Linked DNA regions of Homo sapiens: all the other regions are reported to be linked to region 1. Evidence: microRNA targets listed by miRTarBase, many of them from high-throughput screens and not tested one by one. Region 1 holds a microRNA gene; each other region holds the end of a gene's coding sequence.

What was found. Region 1 holds the annotated microRNA hsa-miR-452-5p (AACUGUUUGCAGAGGAAACUGA, at 2,120-2,141, opposite strand). A microRNA usually pairs through its seed, bases 2 to 8, with sites in the 3' UTR of a target mRNA and lowers its output. Matches are read on the target gene's strand: a 7mer-m8 pairs with bases 2 to 8, a 7mer-A1 pairs with bases 2 to 7 and ends in A, and an 8mer does both.
Region 2: miRTarBase lists RTP4 as a target of hsa-miR-452-5p. Seed matches in the 3' UTR shown: 8mer at 501-508.
Region 3: the mRNA of RHOU is a reported target of hsa-miR-452-5p. The part of its 3' UTR that is shown has no 7-base or 8-base seed match.
Region 4: the mRNA of SEMA6D is a reported target of hsa-miR-452-5p. Seed matches in the 3' UTR shown: 7mer-A1 at 2,836-2,842, 7mer-m8 at 3,696-3,702, 7mer-m8 at 4,065-4,071 and 7mer-A1 at 4,625-4,631.

The regions. Positions count from the first base shown.
Region 1 is chrX:151,957,559-151,961,558 of GRCh38, forward strand. It overlaps MIR452 (microRNA 452), which reads right to left and starts at 2,154; the gene lies at 2,070-2,154. GABRE (gamma-aminobutyric acid type A receptor subunit epsilon) reads right to left here. Exons shown (of 9, transcript NM_004961.4): 5 at 3,725-3,807; 6 at 2,281-2,418. MIR224 (microRNA 224) reads right to left here and starts at 1,100; the gene lies at 1,020-1,100.
Region 2 is chr3:187,371,019-187,375,018 of GRCh38, forward strand. RTP4 (receptor transporter protein 4) reads left to right here. Exons shown (of 2, transcript NM_022147.3): 2 at 1-1,058. The coding sequence ends at 355. Among named protein-coding and RNA genes, the nearest start is that of RTP4, 4.6 kb to the left of the region's middle.
Region 3 is chr1:228,740,612-228,748,631 of GRCh38, forward strand. RHOU (ras homolog family member U) reads left to right here. Exons shown (of 3, transcript NM_021205.6): 3 at 2,674-6,053. The coding sequence ends at 3,129. Among named protein-coding and RNA genes, the nearest start is that of RHOU, 9.1 kb to the left of the region's middle.
Region 4 is chr15:47,769,243-47,777,262 of GRCh38, forward strand. SEMA6D (semaphorin 6D) reads left to right here. Exons shown (of 19, transcript NM_001358351.3): 19 at 1,255-4,986. The coding sequence ends at 2,543. Among named protein-coding and RNA genes, the nearest start is that of SEMA6D, 56 kb to the left of the region's middle.

The sequences.
Region 1 (4,000 bases):
TGTTGCACGAAGATTTATTATTCTGTTGGATGATTCTATTTTAATTTTATTTATTCTGGCCAAAAAAGAACCTTCTCCGCTCGTCAAGAGATGCCAATTTGTCTTGAAGGACAAGAGAAAGATGCTAACACACACTTTCTTCTTCTTGAGGAGTGAGAGAAGCACGGGTAAGGAAAACAATATATCTGGGGCTGATGAACCAAAGCAAAAAAATATATGCTAAAGATGGTTTTCTGCTCAAACTCTTATCCTCTTTGACCAGATCATGGTTGGTCACTGCAGTGTCAGAGGGACACAATTAAATAGACCATGTCCAGAGGACTGGGACTAGAAGAATGAATGGACCCAAAGCTTTGAAGAATAAGGGAAGAAAAATAAACTAGGGCTATGTAGACTACAACAGACTATGATCCATGCCGGGAATGATGATGTTGATCGTTTAATCTCGGTCCTGTGAAACAGTGGCTGGACTAATGTAACCTGGACAGTTCCAAGGAAAAAGAACTAAGCTTAATGTGTGGAACTTCCAGAGACTCCAATTTCAGAAGAACAGGGAGAGTTTTTTGATGAACAGAACTGTCTAGAGAAGAAGGAAACCTCCTTGTAAGACAGTGAATTCCTGACCAGCAATAATATTCCATCAGAGGCTCCACAGCCATCAGTGAAGGGCAAGCCTCTCTCTGGAGGCAGGGCTGGACTCTCTTAGAAGCTCCTGAAGCAGAGATTCTCTGGATCAAGGTCCAAGATGGCCAGAGTAGCAGGCTACCACTGCATTCTGAACCCTTAATCGCCGAGCACGTAAGTATGCTCCAGATGGAGAGACCTGCCCCAGGGCCCAACTGGAAGAGTTTGAGACCAGTCCCAAAGATAACTCTGACATTGAAGGAACCACGTCTCCAGATCAACTAGTCTCCAGCAGAGGAGAAAGAAGACCTCTTTTCTCCTCAAGAATCCTCCTCACTCCCAAGGAGGTCTGGTGCTTACCTACTGTCATTGCTTTGATGATGATGCTGGCTCTGGGGCTTTGTAGTCACTAGGGCACCATTTTGAAACAATGCACAATCATCTACTAAACGGAACCACTAGTGACTTGAAAGCCCCTGGGCCTTATCTTCTCTGTCACTTTTGATGATGGGTCCCCACCTATCCGGGAAAAGCTGAGGTGCAGAAAACCAAGAGGCAGGCCCATGGTTAGCTGGCAGAAGAGCAAGGCTCCCAAGTCAAAGGTAGTAAAACCGCTTCCCCAGAGTCCCCAAGAAAAAGGGCAAGTATTTTTAAGGTAGCCCAGCCCTCTGCCCCTGCCTAATACTGTGCAAGCAAAGCTCTAGCCACATGAGCATGAGCTTTCCCTCATCCAGAGACTGACTCAATAAATGAAACAAAAGCAGATTTTCTGCCTAGTCACATGGTAGCAGAACAAGATGCCTCTCACGACAAATGGCTGGTTGGGTGACTGGCTCCATCCACATTCTGGAAACGATGAGGGCAGTGCCTTCACTGCCCTGAACTTGGTCAGGATGTGTGAAGAGTGTTTCCAGGGTTGCTCTGGGAGCTACCCTGGGGAGGTCCCTTGGCTCCTCATTCAGGTCACCTAGGAACATAAGTGAAGGTGCTCACATCTAATTGGGAGCTGAAGTGTAAGATACCCAGGACCTTCCCCTTTAGTCTTTGTCAGAGAAAAGGTCAGAAAACCAGTGGCCACTATGTCTATGTGGAATCCACCATGAAGCCTTTGATAAGAATCTGTGCTTTTCAGACTTGTTCCTTTAAGATAAATGTCAATGCAGCAGCCAGTGTAGCTGCTGTAACTTCCTCCAGACTTTCCCAGCCTTAAACTAGCTGACATTAGAACTCTAGCCTCCACCTCCCACTACAATGGACTTTGCTTCCCATTCAACCAGACTGGATTGGTTCTGGGTATGGAGAACTCACACGAGCTCCATTCCCCAAAGTCATCCAAAGAGGTCAGAGTTGTAACCTCGAAACTGAAGGGTCTGCATGAAAAAGCCAGCTGCACATTCCGACAGCAGCAGAACTTTATCTACTTACCTAACCTCTCAAGGAGCTTGGCAAAGCACTTACTTCTTTGCAGATGAGACTGAGACATAGTTACAAAGTCTCAGTTTCCTCTGCAAACAGTTGTAAGTGCTTAGCAATTATAAGACAGGAGCCATGTCTTACAATGTTTGCACGGGATGACTGCAAAGCATTTGTATGGATGGCCATCTCCAATCATCCCTACCACCTTCCTGGACTTCCGCCAAGCCCTGGCACGCTTACCAACTGGGGTTGTGATTATTTCAGTTTTGTTGCTCACTCCTGTAAAATCAAACTGGAAGAGCTTCCAGGAGTTCTTCTCATTGATTTCAAGCTTGAAATTTTCCCACTTGTAGATCATCTCATTCTCAGGATAGGAAACTGGAAAGGAATGTGAGAAAGAGGGTCTTATGAGACTTGGAAGCCCACCTGAGGTCTCCAATAGCATGAAGTCAGCCTGCACAATGCCTTGGAGTCCTGTCTCTGGCCTCACCAGCTGTGGGACCTTGCCTCTCTTACCTCATTGTTGAAGTCCATTCAATGAGTGCGTTTACTGAGCATTCCTCAGTATCAGGCCCTAGGCCAGAAATACAGAGATGAGCAAGGCATGAACCCTACCCTCAAGCAATCACATTTAATTTTATAAGACAGTGAGTATACTACTGTGATTTTTGGAGGAGCTCTGAAAAACCTATGTCCACAGAACAGCGGGGAAACAAAGTAGATAAAGGTCACTTGGGGACATACTCAGAAAAGACTTCATAAAGCAGGTGATATTCCCATTAAATCTTGAAACTCAAGTAAATATTCTCAATAAGAATGAGGTTGAAGGGGTTAAGGGGCAGTATAGAAAGGTGAAACACCTGGTGTATTGTGGAAAGGACAAAAGTTCAGGATGGCTAGCTCACAGAGGATGAGGTGCACAGGATTGGGTGGCAGGGTCCAGTTCATGAATGGCCTTGAGGTTCATTCTAAGGAATTTCAAATTGATCCATGAGAGTTAACGGCAGATTCGAGACTAAGAAGTGACCCAACCTAGGTGACCCTTCAGCTAGGTCACTCTGGTCCTTCTGTGAGGACAACATGTTGTCAAGGAGGCCAGTGTAGTAATCCAGGCAGAATTAAATTAATGCAGGTGGAAGTCAAAGCTGTACAGGGTGCAGAGAAATAGACAGCATCGATAGAGACTGGGAGGAAACACCAACAGGATGTGCTGATTGATTAGATGCAGGAGGTGAGGGAGAGGGAACATCAAAGTTCTTGATTTGCGCAACTGGGTGAGTGATGGTCCTCTTCAATGAGACAGATGGGAACCCAGAAGCAACACACTTGTTTTGGTGGTAGAGGTTTGGAGGAGACAATGAATTTCATTTTGGACATGTGCAGTTTCAAAGTGAAGATGTGGCAAAAGTCCAGGTGGAAGATAACAAAGGCCTAAACCAAGGTAGTGCCAGTGGAGATGGAGAGGAGCAGACATACTTGAGATACGCTTCAGAGGCACGTGGAAGGGATGAGCAACACAGTATTGTTGGCAGGAAAGGAAATGAGGGTGGAGGATGGAAGTCCTGCACAACCTTGGCAGCATTTTAGAAGAAAAGCAGAGGCAGAAAAATGTAAATGGCAAGGATGAGAAAAAGAAGGAGCCCAGCATGTTTCTGGGGCCCCAGAAACTTAAGAAGGTACTCACAGCTAGAGAAAGATAGAGGGCAAGAGTGAGAATCCATTGGAAATCTGAGCATGTGGAGTGAGCATCCGGCATCAATGGTCATCCTGGAAGGGAGAAAGGAGCCTCATCAGGCTGGCCCTAAGCACTTCCGTATCCACCCAGCTTTGGTCTAGGGACTACCACCAATGAATGGCCAGAGTCAATTTTTTTCTTTGTTTGTTTGAGACAGAGTCTCACTCTGTCACCCAGGCTGGAGGGCAGTGGCGTGATGTCAGCTCACTGCAGCCTCTTGCCTCC
Region 2 (4,000 bases), not on the chromosome of region 1:
TGGCACGAGGAAGTCTCCAGAAATGCCAGTAATCCTGGAAGTGTCCCTGGAAGGATCCCATGACACAGCCAATTGTGAGGCATGCACTTTGGGCATCTGTGGACAGGGCTTAAAAAGCTGCATGACAAAGCCGTCCAAATCCCTACTCCCCCACCTAAAGACTGGGAATTCCTCACCTGGAATTGGTGCTGTGTACCTCGCAAACCAAGCCAAGAACCAGTCAGCTGAGGCAAAAGAGGCTAAGGGGAGTGGGTATGAGAAATTAGGGCCCAGTCGAGACCCAGATCCACTGAACATCTGTGTCTTTATTTTGCTGCTTGTATTTATTGTAGTCAAATGCTTTACATCAGAATGATGAAAATAGGCTTGCCACTTTCTCTTATTTTAATTCCATGGTAGTCAATGAACTGGCTGCCACTTTAATATAACTGAAAATTCATTTTGAGACCAAGCAGGATCAAGTTTGTAGAATAAACACTGGTTTCCTAGCCATCCTCTGAAAACAGTATGAAACATGACCAAGTACATAATGGATTTAGTAATAAATATTGTCGAATTGCTAAAAAGTCTTCAATCATTCATTCACTAAGTCACTCAGTGATATCAATATACTTAGCTCAGAAAGTGTGGGAGGCTGAATAATGGTGTCTCCCAACATATGCATGACTTAATCCCCAGAACCTGTAAACATGTTACTTTACATGGTAGAATGGACTTTGCGGATGTAATTAAGGACCTTGAAATGGTTAGATTATTTCATATTGTCCGGGTGGATAAGAACCAGGATTTTGTAACAGGGAGGCAACAAGCTCAAAATCAGAAAAAAGAGATTTGTCAATGGAACAAGAGGTTGAAGTGCTTTGAAGTTGGAGGAAGAGGTCACAGGCAAAAAAGTACAGGCAGCCTTTAGAAACCCAAAAGGACAAAGGAACAGATTCTCCCCTGGAGTCTGCAGAAGGAACCAGCCCTGCCTGCACATGGCTTTAGCCCAGTGACACTGATTTTGGACATCTGACCTTCAGAACTGCTTGCTCATAAACTTGTCTTGTTTTAATGCACTAAGTTTGTGGTAATTTATTAGAGAAGCAATAAGAAATGAATATAGTTATCAATACTACAGTATGAATCAGGGAATTATGTTTTAGGTATGCTTCAGGTTTGATAGAAAAAAGAGCACTTTATACATTAGAAATACCAGTCAGCCCCATCTCCTCTTGTTCTTCTTTCTCCCCTACTTAAACCCACTCAAATATCTCCATCTCAAAGAGATTCCCTTTGATTTGATGATCCTTGGAGCTATCATATTCTCACTTCTTTCAGCATTGGATTGGGAATCACAGAAGAACTTGCCAATCCTGAGATCCTCTGATGCATCCTTCACCTCCTATTTTCATCTGTCTGCTAGGCATTTCTGTGTGGCTGTCATGTTTAAAGCCAAGCTCAACGCCTCTGACTCTCCTGTTTTAAATCCCCCAAGTCGCCCAAACTTTTCACCTCAGAGTCATCTTCAACCTCTCCTGATCAGCAACACTTATTCCCTTCTTTTGTCAAGTTACTCCCATCTCTTCCTTCTACTTTTCCTTGTCATCCTCTCTCCTCACCTAGTTCAAAATTATTGAAAAACGAGGGGATTTGGACTTTATCCCATAGGCAATGTGGAGTCATTGCAAGCATTTGAGGATATGGGCAAGTTGAGTAGAACCACATTTTTAAAATACCATCTATTTTTTGGGAAAGAATGGAGTACAGAATAGAAATAGTGAGAAGTCTGTCTTGCAATAGAATAGTGGGAAACACAGAAAGAGGGTCCTGTACACAATAAATATCTTGAAAGAATTTGAAGACAAATATAAGCGACCAAAAGACCTAAGGATGAAAATATCTCCCTTCTTTCTGCCCATCTCTTCATTTTATTTCAGGATCCCCCTACCAGTGCTCTCTCTGTATACATACCCCCTCCCCAAACCAAACCACACTATTGAATTCCTGAATTCCTCCTGTTTTCTTCACAAAGAACATTGGCCTGGGGATCTACATGAAAATATTATTTATAGCCTAGCAATGCTGTATGACCTCAGCAAGTCATAATCCCTTCCGGGGCCTTAGTTTCTCCATCTATAAAATAGGTGGGGGTAAAACATGGAGAGTTGATCACATATATTTACCTCTGATCTCTCTTGAAACCACACTGAGTGACAGCAAAAGGAAATAAAGGCATCAATAGAGAAGGGCAAGGAGAATGGTTAGAAGATAGAACACTGATGGACTAGTGGCAGGTAACTGACTTAGCAGAGTAGGGTGAGCCAGAATATAAGTTTAGTGTGGAAAAACCAAGATGTGATTCATGTTGCACAATTCCAGAAAGGCTCCAGACTGTAGGATGAAGTAGCTCTGAAAGTGGGCACTGGGAAGGCAAAAGTGGGAGTGTTGGCTGAAAGACTATACCAAATTTCTTTCCCCTCTCCGAGGCAGCCTCGTAACCACACTTTACCCAACTGAGGGAGAAGAATGGAGGCTGCTTCTCTGAAGACATTTCTCATAGGGACTATGGCTCAGGGAAATCCTTAAGAGAGGAGGAGCCACAAGCAATCAAAAAGACCATGGTTGTTCACATACTGACTAATGAGACCCTCTTACCCCACTATCAGCCCTTGGAGCTGTTTTATAACCTACCTGCCCATCCCTCATAGACACATAACAGTGGAGGACTCCTTTTCTAGAAAAATGGATCTGCTCAAGATAAAAGAAAATATGTACATTGAAAGGGGGTGGGGGCCCCAATTCCGATAACCTCAGAGTGAACCCATCGGATGGAATCTCCTCCGCCAGAGCTTGCAGGTGGCTTTTTAAGGTCTCATATTTGCACCTTAAATGTGACTGGACAGACTGCCAAGGGATTCTCAAATGTTTGATAAAGTCCCCTAATATAAAGGCAAAGAAGAAAAAAGGTTAAAACAAAAAAGACTCTGAAGAAATAGAGATGATTACAGGATAAGAAAGCCAAAAAAACATTTAAAAAGTAAAACTATTATACCTCAGTGAGGTAAGAGAGGGTATAATATTCATTAGACAAGAATTAGACATCATCCTTTGGGATAACCCTAGATGAGACAGCTACCTTTGGCTGGAATCAGATCTGTGGTAGAGTCTCAGCTACAAGCATCCAATAGGCAATGTTCCCAAAAGCTTGGACAATGAGCACCTTAGTCCTCAAGGAAGTGATGTGAGTGGTGCACCACAGCCTCCACTACAATCCACATCTTGCAAAACTCAAATCTACTTGCTTTGTATAAAAAGTCTACATCTGGAGAAAGGTCTTCTGGGATTCTTTTCTGGCAGAAACATACAAGAGGAAGGTTAGTGGATAAATTTAGCCCCTACCACTGCATCTGGTCTTGGGACAGCAGATGTACACCCATAATCTCTTTTTTCTACCTCCAGTTCTTGATTTTCCTTATCCTAACACCTCTGCTGGTTTAGGTGGCTTACCTATAAGGCTATCCAAATGCTTATCGTGAGGACTGTGAGCCCTGGGTCACCACGTCCTTCTCAGTCTGTGGCTTCTTCCCTTGTCCATCTATTAAATATTATCAAACTTAGGGAAATACCAAGAGATGCGCCAGTGAATCAGTTGGGTGCAAACATATTCTTCCCACACCCATTGTTTAATAGTAGTCCTATTTCCCTCTGATGATCAGGAAGATAACTCTTTTTTGTTTAAACTTTTATTTTAGGTTCAGGGGTCTATGTGCAAGTTTGTCATATAGGTAAATTTGTGTCATGGGGGTTTGTTATACAGATTATTTCCTCACCCAGGTATTAAGCCCAGTATCCATTACTTATTTTTCCTGATCCTCTTCCTCCTCCCACCCTCTGCCCTCTGGGAGGCCCCACTGTGAGTTGTTCCCTTCTATGTGTCCATGTGTTCTCATCATTTAACTACCACTTACAAGTGAGAACATGTGGTATTTGGTTTTCTGTTCATGCATTAGTTTGCTAA
Region 3 (8,020 bases), not on the chromosome of region 1:
GTGATACCTGCCAAGTTTCCTTATGGAGGAAGGAACACATACCTCTTCTAGGCAGTTGACATAAGAGCCTTGAGGGTTAAGTGACTCCACTGACCTCCACTTCAGATGCCTGGAGAATCAACGTGAGCACAGATAGGCTAGAACTTGGGGATGTGGAGCTGGAGTGTGGGTTTCCCACAGAAGTTGATGGGAGCAGAGTATGGATGGCTCTACATGCTGAAGAAATCACTTCTTGTACTTTGGCTTTTCTTGTTAGGGAGGGTAGGCGAGTCTATAAGATGTCAAAAGGAGTTTTTAACACTGGTCTTACATCACTCAAGGGCAGATTGATCAGAGACAGACTGGAGGCTTGAAAAAACATACCTTTGGCATAAGAGAAAAAAGTATTGCGGAAATAGGAGTAGTTCACTGGAGAGTTGCCAATAGAAGCTGAAAATTCTTCAGCCTTTTGACCCATAAAGTACTTGGAAAAATCTTATACTGAAAAAAAAAAATCAAGTTGCAGCTAGACCAGAGGGATGTAGAATCCAGTCTCGTCTCTCTGCCCCGCCAACCCTGATCAGACTTCTGTGCAGTGTCCGTACCACAGACCTGGCAAGCACATGCAAATTGCTTGGCCTCAGAACGCCTTTTCTTAAGGGTGCATTCCAGTTGTCCTCATTGCACGTGTGTATTGCATTATTTCTAAGATTTCAGGTCAGGCACTGAGCAGGAGGGTCTAATTTCTGTTTTATTTCTCAAGCCCCTTAGCCAGAATCTCAAGAGATCTGGGGAGATAGCTTTCCAAAGCCCCCTCAGAAGTCCCAGCCCTTGTGCTTGCCTTTATTTTTCTCAGTAATGCAACCCCAGATACCAGGGCATGGCCAGGGGTGCAGCTACCTGAGGGGGCTGCCTTAATACTGGTCTCAGTTTTATGCTTCTTTCTTTGAGGCCCTCTAAGAACAGAGGGAGCATTCCATTAAAAGATCTTCATGACTGAGCCATAGTCTACCTGGCTGTGTTTCTGTGTTTATTTATTCATCACAAAGTTGGCATGAAGAAACTTAAGTCATTATTTTTCTTTTTAAAAATTTTTTTTAGAGAGCAGGGTCTTGGTATGTCACCCAGGCTGGTCTCAAACTCCAGGGCTCAAGTGATCCCCCTGCCTCAGCTTCCCAAGTAACTGTGACTATAGGCACGTGCCACCACATTTGGCTAAGTCATACTTTTTCAACTTTCGCTTACAGAAGCCTCACAAGTGACATTCTGAAATACCACATTGATTGCTGAGCATTTTAGCTGGTTGACTTTAATGTGATTAGTTGGTTGGCTGTCGTCCCGTAATTGAAACATGGGGCCTCAAATGAAGAAAGTACATTCAAATAAGTTACAGGTTTCTTTTATACCAAGAGAAAAAAGCCACGGATGGAGTATAATGTGATGTAAATGGTACTTGGTAAATAATCGGAGTGTGTCAATTGAGTAATGAAAAACATGAATGGCGTTGAACTTTTTCTTGTCATTGGGAAATTATTTATACCTGAGGATGGTTGGCACCAACAGATATACATTTTACATAGGAAAGAGTAAATATTTTTCTACAAAAGAGTTGAGCAAAAGTTGTCAGTTAGCTGAATATGGTGCTACAGGGAACTATAGGATGTTTTCTGTAAAGAAATGGTAATTTGGAGAACAACATCTGTCTGTTCACAGCCAAATCCCCTCGCCTGCCACTGTGCCTTGAGTGTAGGTGATGTTCAGTGTGTCTGTTAAATGGATGACCACGGGAGAGCATTGGCAGCACAACCGTTGGTTTATTTGTAATCAACTCTAACTTATTCTATCCACTTCTCTATACTTTAAGGGTAGGGTGGGCGTGCCTATTCTCCAGTTCTTATCTGTCCAAAGCACTGTACATGGAGGCCATGGGTACTGGCAAGGATAAAGGAAGTAGGAGAAAATGAAGGAAGGAGGGAGGAAGAGAAGATACAGCCAGAATGAGGATGTATTAACTAGTGTCTGTAAGTGGCACTGAGCTGCAAAAGTTTTCTGAGTCACGATGACAATGGACTGACAAAGGTCCTCAACTCCATTTCTGGTCTGGCCTTGAGTCTGATTAGCATTACTCTGCGTTGCTGTGCATAGTGTGGGCAGAGCGTGTGCACAGTGCAGATGGGATGAAATTGGCATCACTCAGAGCTGTTGGGAAAGGCAGGGCTGGATTGATAAAGAGAGGAGCTGTGTTCGTAGACTGGGTTTGAGTGGGAGTCTTGAGGATCAATATGGGTGTGGTCTGAATTTTAGAAGAGTAGCTAAGTACCAAGAGTTGAGAGTAGGTTTGGGTTACACTCAGCTGAAGGCTTAAGTCCATTTTATTTCTAGAACCCACCTACTTTGAGCACTTTTTCTATGTTAAGCTGTAAGTAGGTCTTGAGTGTCGATGAACACGTTGAACATGTTTGGCAGTGTTCAGACCATAGCTGGCCCTGAAAGCAGATGGCTGCCACACCTTCGCTGGTGCACTGGCCCCGCTTGGGTAAACAGTAGGATCGTTTCAAGGATGCTGGCTCTTCCTTCTAGAACCAGCGGGTCTTCTATCACCTGCCAGACCCTTTCATGAAAAATGTGAAGGTGATCTTTTTACTGATGAGAATTCATGAAAACATAACTTTTGGGTACTTTGCTTGGTTGCAGGATGAATTTGACAAGCTGAGGCCTCTCTGCTACACCAACACAGACATCTTCCTGCTCTGCTTCAGTGTCGTGAGCCCCTCATCCTTCCAGAACGTCAGTGAGAAATGGGTGCCGGAGATTCGATGCCACTGTCCCAAAGCCCCCATCATCCTAGTTGGAACGCAGTCGGATCTCAGAGAAGATGTCAAAGTCCTCATTGAGTTGGACAAATGCAAAGAAAAGCCAGTGCCTGAAGAGGCGGCTAAGCTGTGCGCCGAGGAAATCAAAGCCGCCTCCTACATCGAGTGTTCAGCCTTGACTCAAAAAAACCTCAAAGAGGTCTTTGATGCAGCCATCGTCGCTGGCATTCAATACTCGGACACTCAGCAACAGCCAAAGAAGTCTAAAAGCAGGACTCCAGATAAAATGAAAAACCTCTCCAAGTCCTGGTGGAAGAAGTACTGCTGTTTCGTATGATGCTGGCAAGACACCCAGAAAGGCTATTTTCAGATGAAATCGATATTAGAAGCTATATTAGCTGAAACAACTCCTTTTACTGCGTAGAACCTATATCGAGAGTGTGTGTATATGTATTATAGGAGGAGCTCTCAATTTTATGTATTCTTTCTGCCTTTAATTTTCTTGTTTGTTTGAGCTTAGGGATGAGATACTTATGCAAGATATTTTTGAAGTAAATTAAACATTTTTCACATCTCTGGAAATTTAGAGTTCTAGACCTCTGGTTAATTTATATCTAATATGAAGAAGACACCTCTAATCTGGATGTTAAGAATGAAGTTCTGCTACATTATAATGTACAGAAGAGCAAAAGGGAGGAACACTATGGTTAACCCTCTCTTGATTAAGGGCTACTTAATGCACAGTGCATTATGTACACAGGTCAACCATGGTAACAATAGTTCTTAGCTTTGAAACTCCATGCAAACCATGCCTTTTTTTTAAGGAGCAAAAATCTGAGAAAAAAAGTGAGAGACCTCTGCCTACAAAACCTCAAACCAGTCACTTTTGTCAATTGCTAATACCCAGTTACTTATGATTTAAAAACAACCAACAGAAAACATCCCACTGACTGTATGGCACTCTGTAGTCAAAAAAGGAAACTTCCTTATTGGGACTTTTCTTTCTTAGTCCAGTTGTGTTGACACATATGAACACAGACAAAGTGCTATGCGGAGGAAAGCAAGTGTTGGTCAGTAGTTTCATGTTTTAGGGAGTGGTTCCTGTGGAGATCAGAAAGTGACATTTGCTTTCGGTACTGTAATACGTGCACCAAACTGCCTCAATCCTAGGTAACGAGGGCAACAGGGAGCACCTGTCTGGATTGTTTTTAAACCTCCATACTCAAGCTGTCTCTTCGGCAGGGAGGTGAATACTCTTGAAAGGCCAACAGCAAGTGTTTGTGGGACACAACACAGATAATTTTTTCTTAAGTCGGCCAAGATGTACTTCTCTGTGTGCACACCCATGCACACTCATGCACACAGATACATAGGTCTGTATGGCTGTATTTGCTGTTGATTCAGACTTTCACACCATTAATGGGGAAAAGCGTGGCCACAAAAACAGATGCTAGGAAGCTTGGCTTCCTCTTCTTGTTGACCCTTTTTTGAACCAACATCTTTTTTATTATATTCAGAGTATGTTTTTAAGTGTATCTTAATATATACATTTTTTAGGACATCTTAAATCTAAACAAAAAATAAAATGAACATCTCTTGAAACCTGTTAAAACAACCAGTTAAAGCCACAGATGGCTTTCAGGGCAGTAGCAGCAGAGGCCAGTGGACTCTGAGGACTCCTGAGGGGCGGGGCGTGTAGCCAGCCAGGTGCATGCCGGGACCATGGCCCCCATACTTGGCTGCTTCCTGTGACAGTGAAATACATCCTTCAAGGTGGCAGCTGTTAGGGCTGAATCTTCTGGAGAAAAAGGTGCCATCTCAGGAGAATAGCTTTTACTCTGGTAGGAATGCTTCCGAGACACCACAAGGCAGCCTGAACACTCAGTTGCAGGGTCGGGCTTGCGGTGGGTGACCCAGAGCCACCAAAGTCACATCCACAACTAATGAGGGAAATCTGTAAAGCCAGTTAGATAGAAGAATTTTATTTTTCTGTGGGTTTTGTGTTGTCTTTTTTATGTTAAAAAGAAATCCAGTTTGTGTTTTTCTATAGAAAAAGTAAAAGATCAGGTTATACTTTAGGTTAGGGGTTCTATTTATTCCTGTTAGTAAATAAAATTAACAAATTTCTTTGTTTAACAAAAGATTAATCTTTAAACCACTAAAATACATAGACTGATTGATTATTCAACACATTGGAATTGATGTCGGTCATAGTTTCCTGAAGCATTTAGTTACAACCTGAAGGAATAAAATGATTTGTGGAAATGCTTAAAATAGACCTAACTGAATACAGTCTCATCTTGCCGCGCCTGGCTTACCTATCTGTGGAAAGCTAGGCTTCCCAGGCTGGGCTCTGCCTGTCTGGTGCCTGGAGGTGTGGGAGGGAAGATGAGTTATTTAACTGGTAAGCGATTTGAAACACTATTTTTATATTAAAGTAAATGGCATGGAGTATAGTGCAAATTCATTTTTAAGATAGAACACAAAACTTGAAAGAAGTTTTATGCGTGTGACAGTGTATGGGGCTGCAGTTGGTCTCCCTGGAGGGGACTTCCACACCTCCTGCCTTTAGGCCATGGGTGGAAAGTGCTCAGTGAAGTACACCTGTGTGGCCCAGTTCTGAAAGCTTTATACAGTTGAATTTTAAGTGGGGTTGATAACACCTTGGACTGTTAGTGTTAAAAATCTAGTGGGTTGACCTTTAAATGCAACAGTTTTTAAAATATATTGCTGCATTTTATAGAATAGTAAAGGTACGATTATACTTGAGATTTTCCTCCATTTTTATTTCTTCGTGAACATAGAGTTTGGGGCCGAAAATGTTTTTAAAGTATGTGTTTGAGTTAAATATAAAGTTGGTTCACTTCAAAGCTAAAAAATTGTTAAACTTGCAGCTTGGTATTGCAGAGAAGATTTTATAAGAATTTTGCTTTAGAGAATGCCACTTTGGCTGAACTACAAGTGTAGGCCACCATTATAATTTATAAATACAGCATACTTCAAAACTGTTTGTTATCTCTTGTTACCATGTATGTATAAATGGACCTTTTATAACCTTGTTCTCTGCTTGACAGACTCAAGAGAAACTACCCAGGTATTACACAAGCCAAAATGGGAGCAAGGCCTTCTCTCCAGACTATCGTAACCTGGTGCCTTACCAAGTTGTGCTTTTCTGTTTTCAAGTGTAAATGATGTTGAGCAGAATGTTGTACTTGAAAATGCTATAAGTGAGATGGTATGAAATAAATTCTGACTTATGAATATAATGGCTCTTGCCTTTTCTATCTGAGAATTTTGTTGGAGGTGTTTAGCCACATCTTGAAGCAGCACTAGTTGGGAAGCATCGTGGCTTACCCTGAGAGGTGTTTTGGGAATGCATCTCCAACCAATTTGAAGTGCTTATTCATTCAGCATGGGGTTTTCTGAATTCTGGAGCCACAGTCTGACAATAAGCACCCGCCGACTACATGTTCCTCACAGACTGTGTGCTGATGTCCCAGTGTGTTGGAGGGAGCACTGTTCTTGGAGCCAAAAGTCTGGGCTCAGAGAAGCACTAGTGTGAGATGAAGCTGAGACAGCCAGCGATCTGAGCCTTGGTTTCCTCATCTGGAAACAGTACTGCCTTTCTCATCAGGCTATCTGAATCCTGAACATGCAGAGGAGACATCCAAGATCTGTAAATCACCATGAAAGAGGTTAGAGTCAAAGGCACCATGAGCCCTTACCAGCTGTAGAGCTGAGGACCAGGGTTCCCAGGTCCTGAGGGTGCGGAGAGGTGCTGTTGTGTTCTGTGTGATTTCTTCAGGTTCTTGAAGTCAGTCGGTTTTCCCATCATGCCGTGAGGATGCAGCCCTTTTACTGAGGGCTCCGGGAAATGGGACCCTGGGGAGACGACTATTCTGAGGGGCTGGAAGTCTTCTTGCTTTCACCCTCCAGCCTCAAGGTCATCCTGTGAAGGATGGAGCCATCCACTTTGCTCCACATGGCACTGCATAGGCCATGATATAATTTTTATGAGTACCCACCAGATGTTCAGCCACAATGAATGGGAAGACTGCATGGCATGCAAGTGAAACTACTGTACCACCTAATTCCACACATGACTGGGGAGTGCCAAAAGCACCCCAGGCACTGGTTTCCCGGCCTCCACAGGGCAGCTGACCCCAGCCCAGAGGGACTCAAAGGTTTCTCCACACCCAGTCCCAGTCTGTCTCCCGTGTCCTGGCTGGGCCTTCCTGGGACACATGGAAAGCGCATCCAGCCACTGTAGGAGAGGTGACCATGTGATTCACTGAGACATTTATGGATTCAAAGGGAGGGAAGGAATGAGAAGCATCTGGGAGAAAAGTGTTCTAAAAAGAAAGAAGGTTCAAAGGCCCCAAGGCAGAAGGGCATCTGGTATGTCCCAGAGGCCAGTCTGAACAAGATAAAAGGAGTGCAGAGAGAGATAGGGAGATGATGTCAGGATGGTGATAATGGGAGGTGATGGTGGCAACCAGGGACATGGGGAGGAGTCAGGCTGCTTGGGCTTGAATTCTGGCTCTGCCACTTACTGGTTCTGATTCCTTAAGCTACTTAACCTTTTAAGCCTTCTGAGTCCAAACAACTTTCTAACCTCCCAGGTGGATAAGCATGGCACCTACCCAATCAGCTGATGCTTTCATCCTCTGATCAAATGAGGTTATGGATGTAAAGTGCTAGTACACAGTAAGCACTCAGTAAATGCTCACTCTGCATGGTCTTCCTAGTAGACCCCTTTCAATGATTCCTTTAATTTCCTTCACAGCAGGACCCTCAGTCCATCAGCTCAGGTCCCTGTGGGCATCCCACTGAGATGACAATTGACTCCTAAGGGTTTCCATCTTCATTTCTATTAAATTTTATGAGGCTTACACTTTTAATGGATAACACCACATTCATTTTTTTTCATTTCCACTCATTTTTATAAAATCAGAGCAACATTATATAGATCACACTCCTTGTTGCACAGGCTGGCTCTGTGGAACAAAGCTGCCGCGGCTGCTGCTGCTGACCTGGTGGAACTGTAGGGGGTGGGCCACCTCTCTGAAAAATGACAAGTGAATCCTGCAGATGGTGAAGCAGGGAAGTCTGAATTTGGTGTACAAAGGTAGTTTAGGGAGTCAGTAGGCAAGGTTGCAACCCAGGCATCATGTGGAAGTCATGGATCTGCTGTGTTCCCCAGCCTTATGCTGGGCTGTCCCTTGACT
Region 4 (8,020 bases), not on the chromosome of region 1:
CATTTTCAGCCCGTAATAGGAGCAGTTATAAAATAGCTGCCTGTTGAGTTAGCTTATTAAATATATTACTCTAGGAAAAAAAAATCTATTCTTTAGTACTTACTAAACTATGGTATCAGGTTTCCAATCAGTTTTTATGGCAGCACATTGTCATTTATGATTTATATCGGTTGATTTTCATTTTATATGTTTTCGTTGTAACCAATTTTATAATCATTCTTCTTTCTGCTTTGCTTTCTTTAGTAACACCATTTTTTTCTACTTTTCTTTCTCGGTCTTTCACAGTGCCACTGAATTCCATAACATTAATTAAACATTAATTAAAAACAACTAATGTTCAAAGGCCTTAGTACTAACTTAAAGCAACAGAATCTTCAAAATCACTCTGACTTACCTTACTCTGGGATAGCTGTGTTTATAGCATGTAACAGACTTGAATACCTCTTAAACTAACTTTTTTTTATTAATTGTTAGATGTCTGTGGTTGCATTAAAAGGTTAAGTTTAATTTCAGTAATTATAAACTAATTTGCTCTTCTTTTTCTAGGTCTAATTTAAATATTTTCAAATATCTTCAGATAATTTGACAGTTTACTTAACTAATACATAGTATGTTTCCTTAGACTGTCTGGGTTTCTTACATAGTCGGTCATTCAAGAGTGCTTCACCCCAAGATGGAATGAAAAAAAAAATCCAAGCAAACATGAAAGTCTCTATTTATAGCTAACAGTGATCAAGCAGATATTTTTGGTTTGTGAACAAATTATATGTTCATATTAAAGTTAGTATAATTGTATCAGAGTAATTATTTTAGCATATGTTTATGCTAATTATTACATTTTCCTATATCCTAGTAGCTACCTTTTAATCCTGAATTAAGAGAAAATTATGAGACAAAACATATGAGTTTAAAGTTAGCTATTTAGAAAATATACACTTCTAACTATTTTTTAGATAGAAACTCTTACATTTTTAACATGTAACAACTATTTATGAGGGATTGGAGGAAAAGAACAGAAGAATACAGATCAGTGGGAGATTAGAGTTATCCTGGCATTTGCAGCAATCCTGTATGTCTCTGGGGATCCTAGTTTGATTAAAGACAAAATATACAAGGAATTTTGGAGTCTACTTGACCCTCCGAGCTAAGCATATGAACCATATGAAGGTCGTGTTGGCTCACTGAAAGCCATTTGCTATTTATTATTATTTTTAAAAAGCACCTTATTCACATTGTCCCATGTGTCTATTTCAGGTGTACGATGGGAAGTCCAGTCTGGAGAGTCCAACCAGATGGTCCACATGAATGTCCTCATCACCTGTGTCTTTGCTGCTTTTGTTTTGGGGGCATTCATTGCAGGTGTGGCAGTATACTGCTATCGAGACATGTTTGTTCGGAAAAACAGAAAGATCCATAAAGATGCAGAGTCCGCCCAGTCATGCACAGACTCCAGTGGAAGTTTTGCCAAACTGAATGGTCTCTTTGACAGCCCTGTCAAGGAATACCAACAGAATATTGATTCTCCTAAACTGTATAGTAACCTGCTAACCAGTCGGAAAGAGCTACCACCCAATGGAGATACTAAATCCATGGTAATGGACCATCGAGGGCAACCTCCAGAGTTGGCTGCTCTTCCTACTCCTGAGTCTACACCCGTGCTTCACCAGAAGACCCTGCAGGCCATGAAGAGCCACTCAGAAAAGGCCCATGGCCATGGAGCTTCAAGGAAAGAAACCCCTCAGTTTTTTCCGTCTAGTCCGCCACCTCATTCCCCATTAAGTCATGGGCATATCCCCAGTGCCATTGTTCTTCCAAATGCTACCCATGACTACAACACGTCTTTCTCAAACTCCAATGCTCACAAAGCTGAAAAGAAGCTTCAAAACATTGATCACCCTCTCACAAAGTCATCCAGTAAGAGAGATCACCGGCGTTCTGTTGATTCCAGAAATACCCTCAATGATCTCCTGAAGCATCTGAATGACCCAAATAGTAACCCCAAAGCCATCATGGGAGACATCCAGATGGCACACCAGAACTTAATGCTGGATCCCATGGGATCGATGTCTGAGGTCCCACCTAAAGTCCCTAACCGGGAGGCATCGCTATACTCCCCTCCTTCAACTCTCCCCAGAAATAGCCCAACCAAGCGAGTGGATGTCCCCACCACTCCTGGAGTCCCAATGACTTCTCTGGAAAGACAAAGAGGTTATCACAAAAATTCCTCCCAGAGGCACTCTATATCTGCTATGCCTAAAAACTTAAACTCACCAAATGGTGTTTTGTTATCCAGACAGCCTAGTATGAACCGTGGAGGATATATGCCCACCCCCACTGGGGCGAAGGTGGACTATATTCAGGGAACACCAGTGAGTGTTCATCTGCAGCCTTCCCTCTCCAGACAGAGCAGCTACACCAGTAATGGCACTCTTCCTAGGACGGGACTAAAGAGGACGCCGTCCTTAAAACCTGACGTGCCACCAAAGCCTTCCTTTGTTCCTCAAACCCCATCTGTCAGACCACTGAACAAATACACATACTAGGCCTCAAGTGTGCTATTCCCATGTGGCTTTATCCTGTCCGTGTTGTTGAGAGGATGATGTTGTAAGGGTACCTTAAAACAAGAGACTCGCTTGTATTTTAAGAGAACCAAGTGGCCAAAGAAACTCTTTCTAACTTTGGCAACATCAGAACTTGCCACATGTAGCTACTGCAGCAAGGCTTCTGTGTACTTGCCTGAAAACAAAGGAAGGTGCTGGTCATTCCATTTCTTTTGTTTGAAGCTAAAGAGATGTGTAGCTCACAGGGGCTACCTTACCAGTATAAAGAGCTGATAACAGTACTCAGAAGAATCTGTGAACAAATACTTGAAAATGGGTTCAATGTAGACTGCCATTATGTGTGGTCTTCCCATTAAATGTGAACATTTTAATATGTATGCATTCACCTTGCCTCTTGCACAAATGTCAAAAAAAAGATGGTAATATCTCAAAGAAATGAACTTGTAGATTACCAAGCAGTTTGCTAAAAATTCAATCTTTGACCCAAGCTGTAGCATTTTTTTTTCATGTGTGGCATCTTTTTCATGCCACCAACAAACTTGTTGTGTGTGTGCGTGTGTGTGTGTGTGTGTGTGTGTGTGTGTGTGTTCTGTACCCACTAGGATTTGTTTAGGTGCCCATTGCATCTTTTTGTGCTATGGAGTTGTTTACATTAAGCATGACCGAACGAGAGACAATACTATTTCCCACAGGAGTCCATTGGGTTCAGCTTTGAAAGAGGAATAGAATCGAGGCTCCTTTGACCATCAAAATGATGAACTTTACTTATGTGGTACCCAATGCCAGAATGTAAGAGTTGCAAGTGATTTTGTGCTGCTATTCATTAAAACTTGTATTCCAGTCTTGCCAGCTTAAGGAGATCAAGATATTAAGAGGTATCCTTGATTTATTTTCCAGTATTCAGTAGTAAAATTTTCCTGTCCACTGTGAATCAAAGCCTGAGTCACTCTATTTAACCTTGGACACACTAATAAGGTTTTATTTTGATTGTGTTCGTTTCCCCCCCCCCAATAGTAAAATTTCTCCTCCTTTAACTCCTCCTACCCCCCAAGGTAAGAAACAAAAAACAAACAAACAAACAAAAATAGAAGACAAAAGAAAGACATATGAAAGGAATTGTAATTGGCTTAACAGAAACAGTCTGTAAAAACCTAACAGTGGTGCAATCATGTTGTCTGTGTTGTGTTATGTGAGAATTTTCTCCTAAGTCATGCAGGTAATGACAATATACTGTAAATACCACATGTGAGTTTACCTGAATCTGTGCATTTTGTGCCTTATTCATGAGAATGATAGAAGTACTAAAATCTGTCAAGTGTTTTCAGTATAGCACATTATTTACTGAGTGCCAGTTGTAAATGTTTTTCAACCAGCACCTAAAAAGACTCTTTTCAAAAAATCACAGAAACAACCTAGGACAATTATTTGTTACATAATCCGACCTCATAGCAGCATTACATTCTTTGCCGTGATAAACATTCCACTCCTGCTTTCCTAAGGATGAAACAGTGATAATGTGAACTCAAATGAGGTTTCCTGGGTAATGTGACACCTGCAGAAACTATAGAGCGTCATTTATACGTAGTTTGGCAGAAACCACTTACGGCTGATGATGCGCAACCCTGCTGACTGTTTCAGTTAATATGCTGCACACCACACACTTGTTTAGTGAACCAAATCTAGAAAGTACCAAGGCAGAGGTATGCTCCTGCTGTAATCAGGCAAATGAGTTCAACTGGATTTCTTTTGACAATACTGTTGGTACCTATTACTTGGGGGAGGACATGTTGCAGAAGACCAGATCATTTTTATACAGAATGTGAAATACTGATACAGTTATTCTTTTTTTTAAAGAACATTGTTTTATAAAGAACGTGATTTCCAGTGATCTCTGGAAGCGCTAAAGCTAAAATTTCTGTTCTTGAAACACTTCAGCTTTGCAACTAAAATATTACAGATTAATAATAAATTAAACCAACCAATGATAAACACTACTCAGTCCACCAACAACAAACGTGTTTGAATTCACCTTACCAATATTAATCCCAGCGTGTGTAAAACAGAACAGTAACTCTATGTGACCCCAGATAACATTTTGTAACATTGTGCTTCCTTGTAGTTTGTAATGTGAGTTCAATCAGTATTTATGTTGAAATTTCTAACATTAAATCTAGTCTCTATCCTGTTAATTTAATTTTTAAATGCTTTATCCATTTGTGCAAAGGTAAACGCAGATTGTATCTTTTTTAATGGTACGGCATAAAAAGTAACCCTCAAGTGAAGTGTCTCTATACTGTTTTATAGAGTACTTTAACATGAATAGATACCTTGTAAACTTGTATTGTGGATGTGTAAATAATATGTACTTTGGGTTTTTAACACCGCATGTAAAGTCAAAATAAAATATACAAATCATTATATCCTGCCTCTTGATATTGAAGAGGTTTATAACATGTTATATTTTTAAAATATTTTTAAGTCAATCAACACCAGTAATAGTTGCTTTTAAAATCTGCCAAAATATTCTTATCTGGAACAGTTGCTCTCCAGTCATGATTACACTACCATTCTCTCCTTGGAAGGCTGACACTGGAGGTCAGAGCCCCTGAAAAAAATGAGAAACTGTTCAGAAAACCAGTTGAACTGTACTACGTCAACAGTCATATGCTTTAGGCAAACAGTAGTGGTTCACATTGTCCATAGATCTATCTAGTTCAACAGACATTTTTAAAATTCATGATTTGTTTTCCTGCGTGAAATTTTTCACGTAATAGTTCAAAATTATAACTGGCAAACAGGGTTCCCGTGAACATTTCTTGCTATTTGGTATAAGGAGTTTCTCAGTTCCCTTGTTTTAAACAAATAGAATAAATTAGGAGCTCTCTTCCCTAAATATTGAAATGAGAGGTAACAATATGATTCCATGGCTTGCTCTTAGCACGTAATGAGTTGGTGGCTGCTGTCATTGCTTCTCGTGGATGTTGACAGTGGCAGGCCACTTCTGAGAGAGACAACAGGGGTAGGCTGTAGCAATCCCTGCCCTCTTGTTTCTAGCTGCTACTCCTGGCCAAAGCCCATCTGCAGCTCCCATGTGGTCATGTTTTCTCAAGGAGCTTCAGCAGCATCTTTGCTGAACAGCAGAATGGCCATATTCCTGTCTCGAGTCTTATTCTCCTTGATAGTGTCATCTAATTAGGGGTGCTGCATTTCAGTGTCAATTTAGTGGTATCAGAAGTCCTTGTTTATTCCTATCATAGCATGCAATACTCCAGAGACATGAGGAAAAATTTGAAGGAATCTTTTTGTGAGAGAAGAAGACCAGGGGATGGCCTATTTGCCCCATTTCACAGCTCCTGGCACCACAGGTGGTGCCACCAGCCACAGAACCTGACCTTGGCCTTCCAAACTACCCTATCATTGGAAGGAAGTCTGCGTAAGTGCACACCATTATAGTGCTGGAGAAGAGGGTGGAAGGTGTCTCCCATCTTACTGACTTGCAGAAGTCAATTTGTAACTCAGATTTCGAACAAATGGATGAAAGAAGACACAAGGGAAATGCATCTCCAAGCTTGTCTCACTCTGTCGCCCAGGCTGGAGTGCAGTGGCACGATCTCGGCTCCCTGCAACCTCTGTATCCCGGGTTCAAGCAATTCTCCTGCCTCAGCCTCCTGAGTAGCGGGGATTACAGGCACAGGCACTCACCACCATGCCCAGCTAATTTTTGTATTTTTAGTAGAGAAGGGGTTTCACCATGTTGGCCAGGTTGGTCTCGAACTCCTAACCTCAGGTGGTCCACCTACCTCAGCCTTCCAAAGTGCTGGGATTACAGGCATAAGCCACCACACGCAGCCTCTTCCTAGGCTTCTTTAGCATTGCATTATCATTCATTTGCATTGCCTGTTTCCATTAAATTGGTGTTTATTATACCTACTGCCTGTTTACTAGTTTTTCTGAGTTCAACGATTTTTTTCTCTTCTAAAAAATGCACCTTTCTTTTCTCCCTTATAGAAGTTCTTAGCCTTATTCCATCATAGACATTTTTGATAATTTAATGAATGCTATGGACTGAAAGGCGCATTTCCCTTTCCTCTCCAGGACATTTACAGTCCCCTAAAATCACATCTATGAATCCTCAAGATAAATGCTCAGATCCCATTTGAGAGAAGTAGGGTAAGGGAACTTGGGACTTTTTTCAAAGGGAGCCCATAAAACCAGAGAGTAATGGGACAAATACAATAACCAGGACAAGGCACTGTGCTCTGGTTCCAGAAATGCCATCGACTAAGCACTTGGTTACCCTGGGAAGGGGCAACTTTGAAGCCAGATGGAACACTTGAAATGCTGATACAGGCTAAGAAGAAAGGGCATCTCTTCTTCTGCCAGGTAGTGGTATGATGGCCCAGGTGCTGGTCTGGAACCAGGACTCACCTTCCTGCCATCAGAGAGATTTCAACTTTCTCATCTTCTCCCAGCTGGTCTCTCTCATCTCCTTGTCAGAGGACGGCAAAGAACAAAGTGTCCAAAGCAGCCCTAGGTCCAGGTCCAGGGAGCTGAGTTCTAATCCTCACTCCATCACTCATCTAGTGATTAAGGGGCACTCCACCTCTCCTGACTTTGGTAAAGAGATGATTTGACATCCATGTCTCTGACAGTTCTATGGTCTGTGTCAACTCTGCAAATTCTATTATTTTATGAATGCTATGCTTAACTATTGCAAGTTCAATAGCTTGGTTGGTAGTATGTTTATGGATGCATGAGGCCTGCTCCCTGTTAGATATAAGGTATATGTGAGATTAACAAGTAAGTTATGATAAACAGTGCACTTTTAAGTCATTTACCTTGGATCTATTAATATATTTGATGCTTACACTGTTTGCATATATAACATGTGAAACACTTAAATCTCTGCCAGTGTTGCATTTTTTAAATCAAATAGATGTGGTATCATAAACAAAGAGGAATGGACCTATAATAAAATCAATCTTTAATTCTTGGGGGGATGGAGGGTGCAAGGCTGGAGTGGGAGGTAATGACCATTCAAATGGTGAATCAACTAGAATTCATATATAAAGAAAAATAGCATATTGTTAGCCCCTGTCTCATGATATAATTCTTTTTAAAAATTAGATATTGATTACTGGTTGATAAATCTCATTTTAACATGCATTTGAGTACACTTAGCCTCATATGCAGGGTTTAGGTAAAGGAAAGTATGAAAATACAGCATTATATATGCGCTGTTACTTGTGAGAGTTCTTCATTAGTGTGAGATGGACCTACCCAATGCTACTGTAAAGACTGACTTCAGACCAGTTAGAGCAGTGGTAAGAAGGAAGATTTGTCAGTTTCAAGCAGCGCTGTGCAGTGGAATGTTCCATGCTGATGCAGGTTCTAAATCTGTGCTGTCCAACCTAGTAGGTTAGCATATGTGGTTACTGAGTACTTGAAATGTGGCCAGT